Linked DNA regions of Homo sapiens: region 2 is linked to region 1. Evidence: fine-mapped expression QTL. A gene starts in region 1. The other region holds a variant in brackets. All regions are shown on one strand. Distances are between the middles of the regions.

The links. PIP is the estimated chance that this variant, and not a neighbour inherited with it, causes the effect. A credible set is the group of variants that fine-mapping cannot tell apart.
Region 2: its variant is the best candidate, but not a certain one, in a credible set for the expression of TPD52L2 in whole blood (TOPMed, PIP 0.53).

Annotation. Positions count from the first base shown.
Region 1 is chr20:63,862,876-63,867,256 of GRCh38, forward strand. TPD52L2 (TPD52 like 2) reads left to right here and starts at 2,395. Exons shown (of 7, transcript NM_003288.4): 1 at 2,395-2,509. The coding sequence starts at 2,491. It overlaps ABHD16B-AS1 (ABHD16B antisense RNA 1), which reads right to left and starts at 2,198. Exons shown (of 2, transcript NR_165314.1): 1 at 1,949-2,198; 2 at 1-1,395. It overlaps ABHD16B (abhydrolase domain containing 16B), which reads left to right. Exons shown (of 1, transcript NM_080622.4): 1 at 1-113. The coding sequence ends at 75. RefSeq lists enhancers at 1,123-1,352, 1,446-2,645, 1,685-2,405, 3,127-3,846 and a silencer at 1,813-1,862.
Region 2 is chr20:63,630,911-63,635,291 of GRCh38, forward strand. No RefSeq gene overlaps it. Among named protein-coding and RNA genes, the nearest start is that of MHENCR, 5.9 kb to the left of the region's middle. RefSeq lists an enhancer at 655-824 and a cis regulatory region at 740. The variant G/T (reference allele first, on the strand shown) is at 2,062.

The DNA.
Region 1 (4,381 bases):
CACCTCAAGAACGTGGAGGCGACTCACTTCAGCCCTCTGGAGCCTGAGGAGTTTCAGTTGCCCTGGCGGCTGTAACCTATATGCCCCAGTGGGGGATCACGCACTTGAACTCCTGGCCTTCTTGGTTCACCTCCCCATACCGCCAACCATTGCAGGGGGCCGGCGCCGACGCGGGGCGGGGCGGGGGGGGGCGCGCGGGGTGCTCCTGATCTGCTGTCTGGGGGAGGGTAGGCAGAACACGGGGACTTGGTGCTCTCCTTCCTTCACAGGGGCGTTCTGACCGTCCTCCCATTCTTCCTAGCTCTGTCCCCTCCTTTCTCTCTTCCTCCTACAAATACTTTTGGCTGCCCCCACCCAGCTCCTAAGGGAATGAAAGGTTAACCTGACCCGGTTTATGGCAATACTGTGTGATGGGTGCCTTGATCACCACAAAAGGATGATGGGAACGGGGCTGTGGGGTCCCAGGGAGGAGCCCTTCACCTGGCCTGGGTTACAGGATGGCTCCTGGGAAGACAATGCCAGCTGTGCGCTGAAAGTCTGTGCAAGCTGCTCCCGTGAAAAGGAGGACATTGGCATGGCAGGGCTGTGGGCAGGTCTTAGTGGCTGGACATTCCCAGGAGTTAGCACTGGCTATCATTCTGTAGGGCTCCCTCCCACCTCCAAACTCCTGGCTTCTACACCAGGGCATTCACAGACAGATTGCAGACTCACATGGTGGCATGTGAGGCTACAGATACACTTGCACAGGCCAGAGGATACTACTGCGTGTCCCCTGGAGCCAGGCCTGGGCTGGACTTTGTTCCTGGCTTAGGGATGCAACACAGAATGGGACAAGGCCTCTGCTCACAATGGTCTGTAATGTCACATCTCTGTGGTCTGCCCTGAACTGCCTGAAGCAGGGACTATTGTCCCTACATGTCCCTAGTCCCCGGGCTGGCCTGGTTGGGTTGAGCAAGAATCTCTGGAAAGAATGAAAGGCAGCAAATGGAGAAAACATTACTGAGAGCACGAGAGCAGGCTAAGGCCGTGGTGGTAAGGGACTCGGGCCTGTGCAAGAGTACCAGGAAGACACCTGTGGGAGGAGGTGGCCGGGTGAAGGAAGGGGCAGTGGGAGGAGCTTCCATGCCTAGGGACCAGTACCACCCCAGGCTGGAAGCCCAGAGTGGAGTCCTAGGACATCAGATCCTAAAGGGCTTGAATACCGTTTAAGGCTTTTCTTCCGGGAGCAAGTAGGAGCCAAAGAAGGGAAGTTGCGGGACTTGTTTTCGTGGGGCCAGTTGCCTGGTGGTTACGCGCCTCTCCTCTGAAGTCAGGCATCCTGTTCCAGAGTATCCTGGTTGCGCTTCAACTTGCGGAGTGACCTGGGGCAAGTGACTTTAACCTCAGCTTCCTCATCTGTGGAGTGGGGAGGGCGCAGCGCTGGTCGCCCTGAACAGGAAGTGAGACAACCTCGGGGTGCACACGCGCAGGCCCGAGCCGCAGGGTCCACGCCCGAGGCGAGGCGGCAGCGGCGCCTGCAGGGCGAGGGGACGAATCGCGATCTTTTTCAGAGTAACCCGCGTACAATAAAAAGTCCCCATGAAAAGGACAAACTAGCCAGGCGTGAGGGGCGGTGGCTCACGCCTGTAATCCCAGCACTTTAGGAGGCCGAGGCGGGTGGATCACCTAAGGTCAGGAGTTCTAGACCAGCCTGGCCAAGGTGGCGAAACCCCCGTCTCTACTACAAATACGAAAATTAGCCGGACGTGTTGGCGCGCGCCTGTAATTCCAGCTACTCGGGAGGCTGAGGCTGGAGAATCGCTTGAACCCGGAGGGCAGAGATTGGAGTGAGCTGAGATCGCGCCATGGCACTCCAGCCTGGGCAACAAGAGTGAAACTCCGTCTCAAAAACAAACAAAAAAGGACCAACTAAAAAAAGAATATAAATACAATAAATAACAGGACTTACGGGGGCAGGCTGACCCCTAAAGTAAGGGGTCGGGCTGGAAAGGATCTCAAGGGGTCAGAGTTTGAGCCGCCGAGGCGCGCGAGCCCCAGCACTCCTAGGCAGCTGCATCCGCCCCGGAAGATCCCCTGGGGCCCTGCGCTGGCTTTCCACAGCGCCATGTTGGACGGTCCTCCCACTTCCCACCTTCCCAGTCCTCCCGCTACTCTGACCGTTCTACCTGTGATTCTCGCTGGTGGAGTCAACCTGGAATGGATTCCCGCCGAACCACGCCTCCCTTTCCTGGTTCGCCCGCAGTTTCGGCCTATCAGGTTGAGTCGGGTAAACCAGGACGGGCCAAGCGGCACTCTCATTGGATATCACTGGTGGGGGCGGGAAGAAGGCGGAGCACGTGCCCGGGCGGAAGTAGCCGTCGCATCGCGGATTACGAAACGCCGCGGAGCTGAGGCAGTTCCGCTGGCTAGTGTGTACGCGGCGAGCTTCTCCCGGCGCCGCCCGCTCGGCTCCCATAGCGCCCGCGACAGCGGTCCGGACGCCGCCCGAACATGGACTCCGCCGGCCAAGGTACCTGCCGGGCCCGGCCCCTTCGCCGCAGATGGGCCCAGGCTGCCCGTTGTTCTCCGTCTCCCGGGGTCGCGTCTGCGACTCTCTGTCCTCTCGGTCTCGGTTCACCCACCCCGCGGCCCCTCTTCAGCTCCCGGGGCCACTGACCTCGAAGCTTATGATGGTCGTGGTGTGTTTTTTGCCCGCGGCCCAGACCGCTTCCTGGGCTCTCTCCAGCCGCCCTCCTGGTCTCCCCTGGGACCGTTCCGAGGTGTGGTTCCCTGGCGCCCGCCGTTGCTCCCGTAGTTTGGGTTCTGTCGCTCCCAGCAGGTCTCGCTTATGCCGCCCACCCCGTGCCCTGCTCTTGCTTGCTCTGCCACCCCCCGGTCCCTGCGCGGGGCCCTCGGGTTCACGCTGTCTGGCCCTGGACCCAGTCCGAGGTGTTGAGGGCGGCTCCCGAGCAGAGAAGGGGTCTTCGCGTTCAGCAGAGCTCCCCTTGGGCAGCAACTCTGCTCGGAGCTCAGCCTGCTTAGGGGTTGCCTCATGGAGAGGGGGTGGAGTGAGTCAGGGGCACACCCAGCATACCAGGCCTGTTTCCAGAACAGTCTCCCCAGAGCAGTATGAGATGGCCACTGAGGGGCGTGGAGCGAGCCCAGGAGATTAAAATCTTGAGAAGATGATAAAAGTCTGCCTTGCATTTTGGGGCTCTAGAGAGGGATGCTAAATTTCTTTCTTTCTTTCTTTCTTTCTTTATTTTTTTGAGACGGAGTCTTGCTCTGACGCCAGGCTGGAGTGCAGTGGCGCGATCTCAGCTCATTGCAACCTCGACCTCCCGGGTTCAAGCGATTCTGCTGCCTCAGCCTCCTGAGTAGCTGGGACTACAGGCACGCGCCACCAGGCCCAGCTAATTTTTGTATTTTTAGTAGAGGCAGGGTTTCACCATGTTGCCCAGGATGGTCTCGATCTCTTGACCTTGTGATCCGCCCGCCTCAGCCTCCCAAAGTGCTGGGATTACAGGCGTGAGCCACTGTGCCCGGCTACATATTAAGCTTTATAATTCCTAGGTGCTGCATTATTCTGGAGGGTGTTTTTTGTTTGTTTGTTTTTGTTTTTTTGAGATGGAGTCTCACTCTGTCGCCCAGGCTGGAGCGCAGTGGCTAGATCTCGGCTCACTGCAAGCTCCGCCTCCCGGGTTCACTGCCATTCTCCTGCTTCAGCCTCCCAACTAGCTGGGACTACAGGCGCCCGCCATCATGCCCGGCTAATTTTTTGTATCTTTAGTAGAGACGGGGTTTCACTGTTAGCCATGACGGTCTTGATACCCTGACCTCGTGATCTGCTTACCTCGGCCTCCCAAAGTGCTGGGATTACAGGCGTGAGCCACCGCGCCTGGCCTTTTTTTTTTTTTTTTTTAATTTTTTTTTTGGGGACAGCGTCTCCCTCTGTCTCCCAGGCTGGAGTGCAGTGGTGCAATCATAGCTTACTGCAATCTTCAACTCCTGGGCTCAAGCGATCTTCCTGCGTCAGCCTCCCAGGTAGCTGGGACTATAAGACTACAGGCGCACCATGCCAGGTTAATTGGTCTTTCTACTTTTTTTTTTTTTTTTGAGACGGATTTTCGCTCTTGTTGCCCACGCTGCAGTACAATGGCGCGATCATGGCTTCCCGCAACCTCTGCCTTCTGGGTTCAAGCGATTCTCCTGCCTCAGCCTCCCGTGTAGCTGGCATTACAGGCGTGCGCCACCATGCCCGGCTAATTTTGTATTTTTAGTAGAGATGGAGGTTTCTCCATGTTGGTCAAGCTGGTCTCGAACTTCTGACCTCAGGTGATCTGCCCGCCTTGGCCTCCAAAAGTGCTGGGATTACAGGTGTGAGCCATTGTGCCCAGCCTCA
Region 2 (4,381 bases), 230 kb before region 1:
GACCTTGTGATCTGCCCACCTCGGCCTCCCAAAGTGCTGGGATTATAGGCATGAGCCACTGCAACCGGCTGAAAGATGGTAATTTTAAAGTAGAGAAACTGGGTTGGCTGGGCATGGTGGCTTATGCCTGTAAGCTCAGCACTTTGGAAGTCCAAGGCAAGAGGATCGCTTGAGTCCAGGAGTTTGAGACCAGCCTGGACAATATAGCAAGACCCCATCTCCGCAAAAGCTAAAAAGTTAGCCAGGTGTGGCGGCACATGCCTGTAGTCCCAGCTACTCAGGAGGCTGACGTGGGAGGATCACTTGAGACCAGGAGGTCAAGGCTGAAGTGAGCTGTTATTGTGCCACTGCACTCAGCCTGGGCAACAGAGCGAGAGTCTGTCTCCAAAGGTAAAAAAAGGTCCAGGCACAGTGGCTCACACCTGTAATCTCAGCACTTTGGGAGGCCGAGGCGGGCAGATTCGTTGAGGTCAGGAGTTCAAAACGAGCCTGGCTAAATGGTGAAACCCCGTCTCTACTAAAAATACAAAAAAATTAGCCAGGCATGGTGACGGGCGCCTGTAATCTCAGCTACTTGGGAGACTGAGGCAGGAGAATCATGTAAACCCAGGAGGCTGAGGTTGCAGCGAGCCAAGATCATGCCACTGCACTTCAGCCTGGGCGACAGAGCAAGACTGTCTCAAAACAAAACAAAAGAATCTTGAGTCCTGAGTTCCTCTAAGGGAAATTCCAGGCACCTCGCCACCCTTGACAGGCAAAGGAACAATCTGATGAGGAAGAAGATAGAAACAGCTTAAACAATAGTCTCCCGGCCGGGGGCAGTGGCTCACGCCTGTAATCTGAGCACTTTGGGAGGCCGAGGCGGGTGGATCACAAGGTCAAGAGATCAAGACCATCCTGGCTAACATGGTGAAACCCCGTCTCTACTAAAAATACAAAAAATTAGCCGGGCGTGGTGGTGGGTGCCTGTAGTCCCAGCTACTCGGGAGGCTGAGGCAGGAGAATGGCGTGAACCCAGGAGGCGGAGCTTTCAGTGAGCTGATATCGCGCCTCTGCACTCCAGCCTGGGCGACAGAGCCTCGAGACTCCATCTCAAAAAAAAAAAAAAATTAGCTGGGTGTGGTGGCTCACACCTGTAATCCCAGCTACGTGGCAGGCTGAGGCAGGAGAATCGCTTGAACCTGGGAGGCGGAGGTTGTAGGGAGCTGAGATCGCACCACTGCACTCCAGCCTGGGCAACAGAGCGAGACTCTGTCTCAAAGAAAAAAAAAAAAAACAAAAAAACAATAGTCTCCCAAGTAAGTCAGAGTCACAAGGTGTTTTGATTCCCTGTGGAAACTAAAATATAACAGCTTAACATATGTTCTTGAGTTATTTTTCAGAAACTTGGACATCCACCAGGTGGAAAATGCTGAGCTAGGAACAGTGGCTATAATTTCAGCCTTTTGAGAGGCCAAGGTGGAAGGATCACTTGAGGCCAGGAGTTAGAGACCAGCCTGGCCAACATGGTGAAACCCCGTCTCTAGTAAAAATACAAATATTAGCTGGGCATGGTGGTGCAACCTGAAATCCCAGCTACTTGGGAGACCTAGCTGGGAGGATCGCTTGAACCTGGTAGGAGGAGTTTGCAGTGAGCTGAAATTGTGCCACTGCACTCTAGCCTGGGCAACAGAGTGAGACTCTGTCTCAAAAAATAAATAAATAAAAAGAGAAAAAAGTGTTGCCTGCAGGCCGGGCACAGTGGCTCACGCCTGTAATCCCAACACTTTGGGAGGCCGAGATGGGCAGATCACCTGAGGTCAGGAGTGCAAGAACAGCCTGGCCAACATGGTGAAACCCCATCTCTACTAAAAATACAAAAGTTAGCTGGGTGTGTACATGTAGTCTCAGCTACTTGGGAAGCTGAGGCAGGAGAATCTCTTCAACCGGGGAGGTGGAGGTTGCGATGAGCTGAGATCACGCCACCACACTCCATCCAGCCTGGGTGACAGAGTGAGACTCCATCTCAAAGCAAAAAAAGAAACATAGGTGGGACCCTTGGTGTGTCCTTAGGGCATGATG[G/T]TTGAGGTATACTGCTGGTCCTGTCATGTAAAAGAAAACGAGCCGACTCTGTGTCTACTGGAGAAAGCACTGCATATATCAGCCACAGTCAATACCTCGCTTCTGCAGGGACGGTGGCTGCCAGAGTGGGAGGCTTTGGTAGCACCCATGTCGTGGAATCACAATGTTGTCGATAGCTCTGGGGTCTTGTACAAAATGCCAGATCCTCCCATTTGGTTTCCTTATGGGAAGGATCGCAGTACTATAATACATGGGCTTGTGCAAGGGATCATTATACCCTTTTCTCTTTTTTTGCTTTTCTTTGAGACAGAGTTTCACTCTCGTCACCCAGGCTGGAGTGCAATGGCGCGATCTTGGCTCACTGCAACCTCCACCTCCTGGGTTCAAGTGATTTTCCTGGCTCAGCCTTCTGAGTAGCTGGGATTACACATGCCCGCCACCAGGCCTGACTTATTTTTGTATTTTTAGTAGAGACAGGGTTTCACCAAGTTGGTCAGGCTGGTCTTGAACTCCTGACCTCAGGTGATCCACCCACCTCGGCCTCCCAAAGTGTTGGGATTTCAGGCATAAGCCACCAGGCCCAGCCTTTCTTTCTTTTTAAAATTAATCTTTGTTTAAAAATACTCTCATTTTTTATTTAATTGTAGCACTCCTAGATCCCGAAAGCAGATACACTCTTGTTATGGGTCTGATTCTTTTCATTGCTTCACGCCTTAGAGGATATTGTCCAATACTGGATAAAAGTTTACTCAGGTCTACTTCCACTTTAACGGGGATGGCTGAATATCTCTTCCACTTGGCTGTTCGTTTATAATGAACTGACAAACATACAAATTTTCTTGAGTTCTGTGAGACATTCTAGTAAATCATCTAACCTGAAGAGCAGGTTGTGAGAACCCCTGATTTAGAAAGCCCAGTGGTCATAAATATAAGTGGCTCTGGACTGGCTCCCGGGGTCTGAAGTGTGGGCAGTCGGTTAGGATTGAGCCCTTGTAATTTGTAGGATCTGACACACCCTCCAGGAAGGCAGTGTCAGAATTTACCTGTATTATATTGGACACCCAGTTAGCGGTTGGAGAATTGGTTGCTGGTATAGAAAAATACCAAATATTTTATGTCAGGGGAGTGAAAGAAAAAACAAAAACCCGGCCGGGCGCGGTGGCTCACGCCTGTCATCCCAGCACTTTGGGAGGCCGAGACGGGCGGATCACGAGGTCAGGAGATCGAGACCATCCTGGCTAACACGGTGAAACCCCATCTCTACTAAAAATACAAAAATTAGCCGGGCGTGGTGGCGCGCGCCTGTAGTCCCAGCTACTCGGGAGGCTGAGGCAGGAGAATGGCGTGAACCCGGGAGGCGGAGCTTGCAGTGAGCCCAGATCGCGCCACCGCACTCCAGCCTGGGCGACAGAGCGAGCTCCGTCTCAAAAAAAAAAAAAAAAAAAAAACCCATACACTTTAAGGAAAGCAACTGACAGCATTTGTTACCAGTGATAAAATTTGAGCTTTGAAGTAAGAATAACAATTTTGCCATTGTGCCCGGGCCAAGAAAAAAAAAAGAATTTTGCCATTGTGAAAGGCTTCCCAGTACTTTCTGATGAGCTTGACGGTGATATTAACAAATAACTTTTTTTTTTTTTTTTTGAGATGGGGTCTTGCTCTGTCACCCAGGCTGGAGTGCAGTGGTTCAATCTCAGCTCACTGCAACCTCCGCCTCCCAGGTTCAAGCGATTCTCCTGCCTCAACGTCCCAAGTCGCTGGACTACAGGTGTGCGCCACCACGTCCAGATAATTTTTGTATTTTTAGTAGAGATGGGGTTTCACCATGTTGCCCAGACTGGTCTCAAACTCGTGACCTCAGGCGACCCGCCCACCTCGGCCTCCCAAAGGTGGGAGGCCTTGCTGGGATTAGAGGTATGAGCCGCTGCACCTGGCCTCTTGTCCTTGTGTTTTGCAGTGATGCAATGACCATGTCTTACATTTGCAACCAGAAAAAAAGGTTAGTGTAACAATGTTTATCCTGTTTTTCCCAGAGTAGACATTATGAAGATTAAAAAAATTTGAAAGTGTTTTGAATATAATAAACTATGCTATACACACAACATTTTGGTGACTAGAAATACAAGTTTATTGTTTGTTGTTTGTTGAGACAGGGCCCTGCTCTGTCTCCCAGGCTGGGTGGCACAATCATGGCTCACTACAGTCTTGAACTCCTGGGCTTAAGCGATCCTCCCACCTCAGCCTCCAGAGTAGCTGGGACTGCAAACGAGCACCACCACGCCTGGCTAATATTTGTATTTTTTGTAGAGATGGGGTTTCA